Regions from separate parts of the Homo sapiens genome. Here region 1 is linked to region 2. Evidence: fine-mapped expression QTL. A gene starts in region 2. The other region holds a variant in brackets. All regions are shown on one strand. Distances are between the middles of the regions.

Evidence for each region. PIP is the estimated chance that this variant, and not a neighbour inherited with it, causes the effect.
Region 1: its variant is fine-mapped to the expression of INTS15 in whole blood (INTERVAL, PIP above 0.99).

Annotation. Positions count from the first base shown.
Region 1 is chr7:6,627,614-6,632,979 of GRCh38, forward strand. No RefSeq gene overlaps it. Among named protein-coding and RNA genes, the nearest start is that of ZNF316, 7.0 kb to the right of the region's middle. The variant G/A (reference allele first, on the strand shown) is at 3,116.
Region 2 is chr7:6,587,033-6,592,328 of GRCh38, forward strand. INTS15 (integrator complex subunit 15) reads left to right here and starts at 2,989. Exons shown (of 6, transcript NM_024067.4): 1 at 2,989-3,443; 2 at 4,614-4,835. The coding sequence starts at 3,252. It overlaps ZDHHC4 (zDHHC palmitoyltransferase 4), which reads left to right. Exons shown (of 8, transcript NM_001134389.2): 8 at 1,585-2,342. The coding sequence ends at 1,878. LOC124901582 (a long non-coding RNA gene) reads right to left here and starts at 2,872. Exons shown (of 2, transcript XR_007060201.1): 1 at 2,428-2,872; 2 at 1,891-2,193. RefSeq lists enhancers at 2,131-2,969, 2,594-2,743 and a silencer at 2,814-3,313.

The sequences.
Region 1 (5,366 bases), 41 kb after region 2:
GTGGCGGGCACCTGTAATCCCAGCTACTCGGGAGGCTGAGGCAGGAGAATTGCTTGAACCCGGGAGGCAGAGGTTGCAGTGAGCTGAGATCGTGCCACTGCACTCCAGCCTGGACGACAGAGCAAGACTCCATCTCAAAAACAAACAGAGACAATAGGGAAAAGAGACCTTAGTATAGAACTGATAGAACTGGGTTCAATTCTGGCCAGGCGCGGTGGCTCACGCCTGTAATCCCAGCACTCTGTGAGGCCGAGGCAGGCAGATCACGAGGTCAGGAGATCGAGACCATCCTGGCCAACATGGTGAAACTCCGTCTCTACTAAAATACAAAAATAATTAGCCAGGGGTGGTGGTGCGTGCGTGTAGTCCCAGCTGCTTGGGAGGCTGAGGCAGGGGAATCACTTGAACCCCAGAGGCGGAGGTTGTAGTGAGCCGAGATCGCACCACTGCACTCCTGCCTGGCGACTGAGCAAGACTCTGTCTCAAAACAAACAAACAAATGAAACAAAACCCTGAAAACAGAGGATGCCCCCCACACCTCCCCCATGAAGGGCTCCTGGCCTTCTGCCAACAGGAGGCAGCCTAGGGAAAGAGGGAGGACAAGCGGGCCTATGTCAGCGGCTGGTCCACCTGCCATCCTGCTGCTTATGTGAGCAGGAGGAAAGAGGAGAGGTGATTGGCAGCCTGCCCCAGGGACATGGCCTGCCTGGGCCTGTGCACCCCGAGACAGCAGGAAACAGCAAGAACAAGAAAAACAGATACCCACATGGACATTGCTGCTCAGCCCAGCCAGCCACTGGCCTGTTAGTGGGCAGCTTTCCCTCCCTGGAGGGCACTGGAGGTGGCTAACAGAGGTGGGCTGGAGCACCAGAAAGGCAGCCCCTCACTTTAGCCTCAGCTTGAGCTCCTGCACCGTGCCGCTGGCTATCATGGCATCCAGGGCCTTCAGCTCATGGCATCAGGCCTGGAGTAGGGCAAGGCCCCCCCACAAGTCCCAACCATGAGGTGCAGCCTGAGAGTCACACACCAATAATCAAGGGATGACAGAAAGAGGAGTTCCCCGGCCTGCATGGGGACAGGTGGTATTTCAGCCCAGCCTGAAAGGTGACCAGAGAGGGGGATGCAGTGGTGGTAGGGGACATTTGTCTTGAGCAAGAGCCTGAGGTGGGAGCTGGGGGCAAATCCAGGGGTCTGAGTGGTCCTGTGGCTGGAATTTCTTGCCCTGGTGGGGGGTCCATGGTGGCTATGAAAGGCGTCAGGTGCTGGGGAAGGTTATGACTTGCCAAGGTGGATGGGGTGTGGCATGTGGTCCCGATGGACAGCAGGAAGCCATCCGAAGGCTGTTTAAGGGAACCAGGTGAGAGATGACAAGACTTCAAGGTGACAGAGTTAAGCTCTGGTAACTGGAATTTTTTCTTTTTTTTTTTTTGAGACAGGGTCTGACTCTGTCGCCCAGGCTGGAATGCAGTGGTGCAGTCATAGCTCACTGCAGCCTTGAACTTGGGCTCAAGCTCAAGTGATCTTCCTGTCTCTGCCTCCTGAGTAGCTGGGACTACAGGTGTGCACCACCATGCCCAGCTAATTTATTTTTATTTTTATTTTTATTTTTATTTTATTCATTTGCTTTTTTTGAGACACAGTTTTGCTCTTGTTGCCCAGGCTGGAGTGCAATGGTGCGATCTCAGCTCACCGCAACCTCCCTCTCCTGGGTTCAAGTGACTCTCCTGCCTCAGCCTCCCGAGTAGCTGGGATTAAAGGCTCCTGCCACCTCATCCCGGCTCATTTTGCATTTTTAGTAGAGACGGGGTTTCTCCATGTTGGTCAGGCTGGTCTTGAACTCCCGACCTCAGGTGATCCGCCTGCTTCAGCCTCCCAAAGTACTGAGATTACAGGCGTGAGCCACTGAGCCCGACCTCTAATTTTTTTTTTTTTTTTTTTTTTTTTGAGACGGAGTCTCACTCTGTCACCCAGGCTGGAGTACAGTGGCGCAATCTCGGCTCACTGCAAGCTCCGCCTCCCAGGTTCACGCCATTCTCCTGCCTCAGCCTCCCGAGTAGCTGGGACTACAGGCGCCCGCCACCATGCCCAGCTAATTTTTTGTATTTTTAGTAGAGACGGGGTTTCACCGTGTTAGCCAGGATGGTCTCGATCTCCTGACCTCGTGATCTGCCCACCTTGGCCTCCCAAAGTGCTGGGATTACAGGCGTGAGCCACCACGCCCGGCCCCGACCTCTAATTTTTAAATTTTTTGTAGAGGCGAGGTCTTGCTATGTTGCCCAGACTGGTCTCAAACTCCTGGGCTCAATCAATCCTCTCGCCTCAGCCCCCCACAAAGTGCTGGGATTACAGGCATGAGGCACTGCCCAATAATTCCCAGTAAATGGGAATGATTGTTCAGCAGAAAACTGATCCCTTTGGGAAAGTTAACGTGGGGAGAATGTGGCCTGGCTCTATGGTCCTTGACACCACCGTGAAAGACCAGGTCACCCTCTGCCCATTGCCCTTCCAGAAGAAGCTTGTCCTCCCTGCCCCAGCTCCGAGTCCACCACAGTCTCCCACTCAGGCAGCTGCAAGGCATGCTGGGAGTGAGTGGCCACTGGGGCTGGGGGCTGTCGGGGGCAGAAAGGAGGAGCAGATTCCTCCCTCCTGGCACCTACAAAAGTGTGTCCACCAGACAGGGCTAGATCAAGTCCAGGTCCCCGCAATGGAATGGGAAGGAGCAGGCAGCAGTGGGGTCTCAACTGCCGATGAGGAGGCATGCAGGGCTGGAAACACAGTCTTTCTATTTCCTTGAGCGGCCTTCAGCCTCCCCGGAGCCTCTTCTCCACTCAGCCTTGACCTTTGAGTGTCTGTGCCCGTCTCTGCATTGCCCAGCTGTAGCAAAAATCCTGTCAAGTCAGTTTAGCCAGAATCTCCACCCTTGGTATCTGATCAAATCCCTCCTCTCCCACCACCTGCCAGGTGCCCTCTGATCACTCTTGCCTGCCTTCAGCCAGGATCCTGGGAGTCAGTTCAACCACAACCTCCCACTCCTTCGTATTTTTCCACCCACCCACTCCCCTCCAACCTGCTCCTAGGCTGGAAGTCTCCACTTGTCCCTGCTGTATTCAGAATT[G/A]AGCCCAGTTCTATACTGAGGTCTCTTTTCCCTATTGCAATAGTTCCTGAATAAAATCTGTTTTTTACCGTTTTAACTACTGTCCAGCTTTGTTTTCTTTTTCTTTTTTTTCTTGAGACAGGGTCTCAGTCTGTCGCTCAGGCTAGAGTGCAGTGGCACCATCATAGCTCACTGCAGGCTCACCCTCCCGAGTAGCTGGAACTACAGGCTCGCACCACCATACCTGGCTAATTTTTTCTACTTTTTGTAGAGACGAAGTCTCACTATGTTGCTCAGGCTGTTCTCGAACTCCTGGGCTCAAGTGATCGATCCTCCCACCTTGGCTTCCCAAAGTGCTGGGATTACAGGAATAATATGGTTTGGATCTGTGTCCCCACCCAAATCTCATGTTCAATTGTTATTTATTTATTTTTGGAGACTGAGTCTCCCTCTGTCACCCAGGCTGGAGTGCAATGGTGTGATCTCAGCTCACTGCAACCTCCACCTCCTGGGTTCAAGAGATTCTCCTGCCTCAGCCTCCTGAGTAGCGGGGATTATAGGCACTCGCCACCACTCCTAGCTAATTTTTGTATTTTTAGTAGAGACGGGGTTTCACCAGGTTCGCCAGGCTGGACTCAAACTCCTGACCTCAGGTGATCCACCCACTTTGGCCTCCCAAAGTACCGAGATTACAGGCCTGAGCCACCATTCCTGGCCTCTCAAGTTCAACTGTAATCCCCAGTGTTAGAGGTGGGGCCTGGTGGGAGATGATTGGATTATGGGGGCAATTTCTCATGGTTTGATACCATTCCCCCTGGAGCTGTCACCACGACAGTGAGTTCTTGTGAGATCTAGTTGTTTACAAGTGTGTGGCACCCCTCCCTTCTCTCTCATTCCTCCTGCTGCCACCATTTGAAGTGCTGGCTCCCCCTTCACCTTTTGCCATGACTGTACGTTTCCTGAGGCCTCCCCAGCCATGCTTTCTGTATAGGCTGCAGAGACATGAGCCAGTGAAACCTCTTTTCTTAAATTACCTAGTCTCTGGCAGTTCTTTATAGCAATAGGAGAACCGACTAACACGAAACATGAGTCACCGCTCCCAGCCTCACCTATGGTTTTAATAGCAGCACTACTGCCTTCAGCCCACTCCAGGCACACAGAGGCTCCGTGGGGGCATCCATCAGCATCCTTCTGTGCCAGGCTCCCTGCCAGCCCCTGGTGTGAGAGCTCAGGAGGAGCCCAGGAGGGCTTCCTGCAGGAAGAGACAGCTGAGGAAGTCCCGAGAGCCGAGTGAAGGGGAGCTCTGCCCAGTCAATGTTCAGTCCCTGCAGGTGGGTCTGTGCAGATACGGGGCAGGCCCATGTACTTGAACGGAGATGCTCTCGGCCTCACAGAATTCCAAATGCCCCAGATGCCTGTTAACTTTTCACATACCCTGTGTCCCTGCCAGTGAGACACACGAAGGCTGAAGCATAGAACAAGCTTCATGCCAATCACTGGGTGGGCTGGCACCCTCCTCACTGCCAGCACCCACCGTGGAGGATGGGCAGGAGCCAGGCAGATGACACCCCAGGAACTGTTTCATGAGTATGCTTGGATATTCCCCCAGCCCCAACCCCACCAACTGCTCATAGATAGATGACTGACATGGAATTGTACTAGTGCAAAAAGGGTATGATTTACTTTTTTTTTTTTTTGAGACGGAGTCTCACTCTGTCGCCCATACTGGAGTGCAGGGGCGCGATCTCGGCTCACTGCAACCTCCGCCTCCCGGGTTCAAGCGATTCTCCTGCCTCAGTCTCCTGAGTAGCTGGGATTACAGGCACCCACCACCACGCCCAGCTAAATTTTTGTATTTTTTTTTTAGTAGAGACGGGGTTTCACCATGTTGGTCAGGCTGGTTTTCAACTCCTGACCTCAGGTGATCCACCGGCCTTGGCCTCCCAAAGTGCTGGGATTACAGGCATGAGCTACTGCGCCCCACATTATTTAATTTTTGAGATGGAGTCTCACTCTGTCACTCAGGCTGGAGTGTAATGACACAATCTCGGCTCACTGCAACCTCTGCCTCCCGGGTTCAAGCGATTCTCCTGCCTCAGCCTCCCGAGTAGCTGGGATTACAGGTGTGTGCCACCACACCTGGCTAATTTTATATTTTTAGTAGAGACAGGGTTTCTCCATGTTGGCCAGGCTGGTCTTGAAATCCTGACCTCAGATGATCCGCCCACCTTGGCCTCCCCAAGTGCTGGGATTACAGGTGTGAGCCACTGTG
Region 2 (5,296 bases):
TGGGTCATATGGTAACTTTTTTTTTTTTTTGAGACAGAGTCTCACTCTGTCACCTAGGCTGGAGTGCAGTGGTACCATCACAGCTCACTATGACCTGGACCTCCTGGGCTCAAATGCTCCCACCTTGGCCTCCCAAAGTGCTGGGATTACAGGTGTGAGCCACCATGACTGGCCCAGAATCACTTTTGATTTGAGGTCTTTATATAATAATGACGGTTAATCTTTTGTTATACTGTTTTTTTGTTTGTGGATCTTTTGGATCTTGGGAATGGGGTTTTGGGTTTTTTGGGGTTTTTTGGTATAGAAAAGTTCAGACATTCTTTCTCATCAAATTTCTTTTCTTTGTAACTTCAACAAGAAAGTCTCCTCCATCAGGAGTTTTGTTAAATGTTCTCTTTTCTTGTGACTTTCAAAAATATTAAACTTTCTAAATTCTTCATTTTGCTTATTACAAAAATAACTTACAAAACTTTAAGCAGCGCAGTTCCTATGGTCATATACCATTTACGGAGTCAGTTTTGTTTTTACCCAAACAAGATGACAGTGTAATCCTTACATCTTGCCTTTCTCATTAGTCAATATATTAAGTCTTTTCACAATCAGTACATAGAAATTGACATCATTTTTCATGGCTCCTCGTTTTCCCATTGTGTGACCATCCCAGAGTTTACCCTTCCTGACGGATGGACATTTAACTTGTTTCTTGGCCAGGCACAGTGGCTCACGCCTGTAATCCCAACAATTTGGGAGGTCAAGGCAGGAGGATCACTCAAGGCCAGGAGTTTGAAAGCAGCCTGGGCAACATAGCAAGACCCTGTTTCTATTGATTTATTTATTTATTTATTTATTTTTAGATGGAGTCTTGCTCTGTCGCCTAGGCTGGAGTGCAGTTGCACAATCTCAGCTCACTGTAACCTTCACCGCCCGGGTTGAAGCAATTCTTCTGCCTCAGCCTCTTGAGTAGCTGGGATTACAGGCTTGTGCCACCACACCCGGCTAACTTTTGTATTTTTAGTAGAGAAGGGTTTCACCATGTTGGCCAGGCTGGTGTCAAACTCCTGACCTCAAGTGATCTGCCCGCCTCGGCCTCCCAAAATGCTGGGATTATAGGCGTGAGCCATTGCGCCCGGCCCCTGTTTCTATTTATTAAGAAAAGGAAAAAAACTTCGGAAGAGGGGCTGATAAAATCAATGATACAACGAATATCCTTGTACATCTATTTTTGGGGTTGTATTGTTTTAAGAAAGACATTGATCTCTTTTGTCCATCTGGATTTTATATTGATGAATGAAGTCTGCATTTATTTTATAAATAGCTAACTGGAATAGCACATTTCCTAAGTAAACTTTCCCTTTTCCTTCAGTGTGAACACTTCATTCATCCCACAGGAAACTCTTGTATGTACTGGGATTATTCTGGGCTGCTTCTCAGTGCTGTTTATGTTCAGTTTGTCACATCTGGACACAAGTAGGTGGGCTGAGGAAGCAGCGCTGGTGGCTGTGGCAGGCCCAGGGTTGGCCAGTGTTCACTCTCATGGATGTCACAGTCCAGCTGCCTAAAGCACTACCTTTTCTCTGCTCCTAGTACCTGTTCCTGACTTTTCCACGGATTGTCTTCATGCTGGGCTTTGTCGTGGTTCTGAGCTTCCTCCTGGGTGGCTACCTGTTGTTTGTCCTGTATCTGGCGGCCACCAACCAGACTACTAACGAGTGGTACAGAGGTGACTGGGCCTGGTGCCAGCGTTGTCCCCTTGTGGCCTGGCCTCCGTCAGCAGAGCCCCAAGTCCACCGGAACATTCACTCCCATGGGCTTCGGAGCAACCTTCAAGAGATCTTTCTACCTGCCTTTCCATGTCATGAGAGGAAGAAACAAGAATGACAAGTGTATGACTGCCTTTGAGCTGTAGTTCCCGTTTATTTACACATGTGGATCCTCGTTTTCCAAGCATGGCTTGTTTGTTTTGATTTCTGCTGTGCTTATAAATCACTTTCGGTGGGCAAGGGAGAGAGGGGAAAATGGGTGTTGACTGAGGAATCCCCCTTGCTTGTCTTCTTTTGAAACCGGGCATCTCTGAAGTCCTGGTGTCAAGGGGATCAAGAGATGACTTCTCAGAGGTTCTAGGTGATGCTGAGACCTTGGTGTCTCTAAACTCTGGGCATGTGGACAGGAGGGGCTTGCGGCCGTGTCTCTGACCTGTGTGATGTGCAGGAGGGTCTCATTGACTCAGCGCCTGCGCGTTGTGCCTGGCTGTGCTCTCTTTTATGCCCCCTCTATTCTCCTCTCTCCCCCAGGGGATTTTCATCTCAACAACAGAGTGTCCTCACCCAGGCCTGCCTTCCGGCCAGTATGGGCTTGTACATCAGGCACCTTCCTGCATGTGTGGCCTCCGGCCTGCCCTCCTCTAGCCACATTCAAGTCCTTTCTCACCAGTTTAAAAATTGTGAAAGTGAACTGCCACCTATTTCAGAGGAGACATGACTGCCAGAAACGAGGTCTTGGTGCGGAAGGTCTTTGGAGTGGGAGGGCTCTCAGGTGCAGGTGGCAGGTGTTCTGCACCTTGCTAGGCCAAGGAGCCCGCAGTCAGAGAGGCTGGGAAGTGGGAGTCAGGGGCAGGGGGCCTTCCAGCCATCTTCCCCCGTACCCCCCAGCTGAGAACAGATGGAAACGTGAAGACGGGTAGCTGGGGCGGCCAGGGAACCCAAGTCCGCTGGCCGAAGCCAAAGCCCGGCACCACCCCCAATTCTTGCTGGTGGAAAGCACCGTGAAATCAACCAGCGGCAGCTCTGAACGCGACGCACAGCCCGCGAGGGAGCCTGGGCAAGGACGGAGCGGGCCTGCACCGGCGGTTGGGCGGGCTCCGGGGGCGGGGTCCACCTGGGACCGCGGCGCGCCCCTCACCGCTCGCGCCGCCAGGGGGCGCCCTCCGGAGAGCGCGCCTAGGCCGCGGCCTGCGCTTGGCCCCTGCGGGCCGCCGTCTCCGTGCCCGGCATTCGGCCGCTGTTCGGCTGCGCGGCGGCAGCTCCCGGCGGCTCCTGGCGGCGCCGCAGTCGGACCTTCGGGCGCCTGCTGGCCGGCGGCAGCAGCGATGGCCCCCTGAGCAGGCAGGGAGCAGGCGGCGGCAGGCGGGCAAGCGGGCGGGTGCCGCAGCCCAGGCCCGGGTCGCGCCTCTTTGTTTCCACGGGTAGCGGCGCAGTCCCGGGCCCCGGGCGGAAGTGAGACGCGCTCGGCGCGGGGGCCGCGGCGGCCGCACCATGAGCGACATCCGCCACTCGCTGCTGCGCCGCGATGCGCTGAGCGCCGCCAAGGAGGTGTTGTACCACCTGGACATCTACTTCAGCAGCCAGCTGCAGAGCGCGCCGCTGCCCATCGTGGACAAGGGCCCCGTGGAGCTGCTGGAGGAGTTCGTGTTCCAGGTGCCCAAGGAGCGCAGCGCGCAGCCCAAGGTGCGGCCTGAGACGGTCGGGTTCCCGGGCCCCGCAGGCGGGCGGGCGGGCCTTTTCCCCAGCGATGCAGGGCTGTGTCAAGCCGCGGGCGCCCCATGTCCAGGATCCCCGCGCTCGCGCTCGGCCTCGCTCCTGCAGCAGCCCCCAAACCCTTCTCCGGGTCCTGCAGTGTTGCTCAGCTGCCTGTCCAGTCTGCGGGGCGTGTGACAGCCGAGTCTTGGTGTTAAAGGGACAAACTGGCGACTGCCCGCTCCCTAGAGGTCTGTTGGGCTGTTACCGAAAGGCTCATCCTGAACCCTCCAGGAGGATGTATAATGATCTGTATGGCTTTCTTCTTACATCTTTTTCTTTTTTTTTTCTTTCTCTGCCTTTTTTTTTTTCGAGACAAGGTTTCACTACGTTGCCCAGGCAGGAGTGCAGTGGTGCAATCACAGCTCACTACAACCTTGAACTCCTGGGCTCAAGTAATCCTCCCGCCTCATCCTTCTGAGTAGCTGGGACTCCAGGCGTGCACCACCATGCCCAGCTAATTTTTGAATGTTTTGTAGAGATGGGGCCTCCCTGTGTTACCCAGGCTGGTCTCAAACTCCTGGGCTCAAGATTCTCTCTCCTTGGCCTCCAAAGTGTTGGAATTACAGGCGTGAGCCACAACGCCTGGCCTATATGACTTTTTTCTAAGATCAACAGCAAAGATCTCCCTGAGACCTGAGCTTTACGAAGGGCGAAAAGTTCTACGGGAACTTTACGAAGGGCGAAAAGTTCTACGGGAAAATACTGTTATTTCCTGTTTTTCTTTTTTTTTTTTTTTTTGAGACGGAGTCTCACTCTGTCACCAGGCTGGAGTGCAGTGGTGCGATCTCGGCTCACTGCAACCTCCGCCTCCCAGGTTCAAGCGAGATTCCTGCCTAAGCCTCCCGAGTAGCTGGGATTACAGGTGCGCGCCACCATGCCGGCTAATTGTTGTATTTTTAGTAGAGATGGGGTTTCACCATGTTGGCCAGGCTGGTCTCGAACTCTTGACCTCGTGATTCGCCCACCTTGGCCTCCCAAAGTGCTGGGATTACAGGCATGAGCCACCGCGCCCAGTCTATTTCCTGTTTTCTTAATGTATGAGTTAATAAGTACGTTACAGCCACATTTCTTAACGCTTTTCCGGGATTTCTTTTGCAGAGACTGAATTCCCTTCAGGAGCTTCAACTTCTTGAAATCATGTGCAATTATTTCCAGGAGCAAACCAAGGACTCTGTTCGGCAGATTATTTTTTCATCCCTTTTCAGCCCTCAAGGGAACAAAGCCGATGACAGCCGGATGAGCTTGTTGGGAAAACTGGTCTCCATGGCGGTGGCTGTGTGTCGAATCCCGGTGTTGGAGTGTGCTGCCTCCTGGCTTCAGGTACTGCTCAAGAGAGACCCTCGGCCGGGTGCGGTGGCTCATGCCTGTAATCCCAGCACTTTGGGAAGCTGAGGTGGGCGGATCACTTGAGGTCAGGGGTTCAAGACCAGCCTGACCAACATGGCGAAATCATGTCTCTACTAAAAATACAAAATTAGCCGGGCATGGTGTTGCATACCTGTAACCCCAGCTACTCAGGAGGCTGAGGCAGGAGAATCACATGAACCCGGGAGGCAGAGGTTGCAGTGAGCTGAGATGGTGCCATTGCACTCCAGCCTGGGTGACAGAGCAAGACTCCGTCTCAAAAAAAAAAGAGTCTCCCCTGAGAGTCTCTGAAGATGATTTTGCTGTTCGGAATTCTCATTTAATTAGATTTCTGGAGTGTTTTTTGTTTGTTTGTTTAAATTATTTTTTTTGGCCATGCTTAGTGGTTCACTCCTGTAATCCCAGCACTTTGGGAG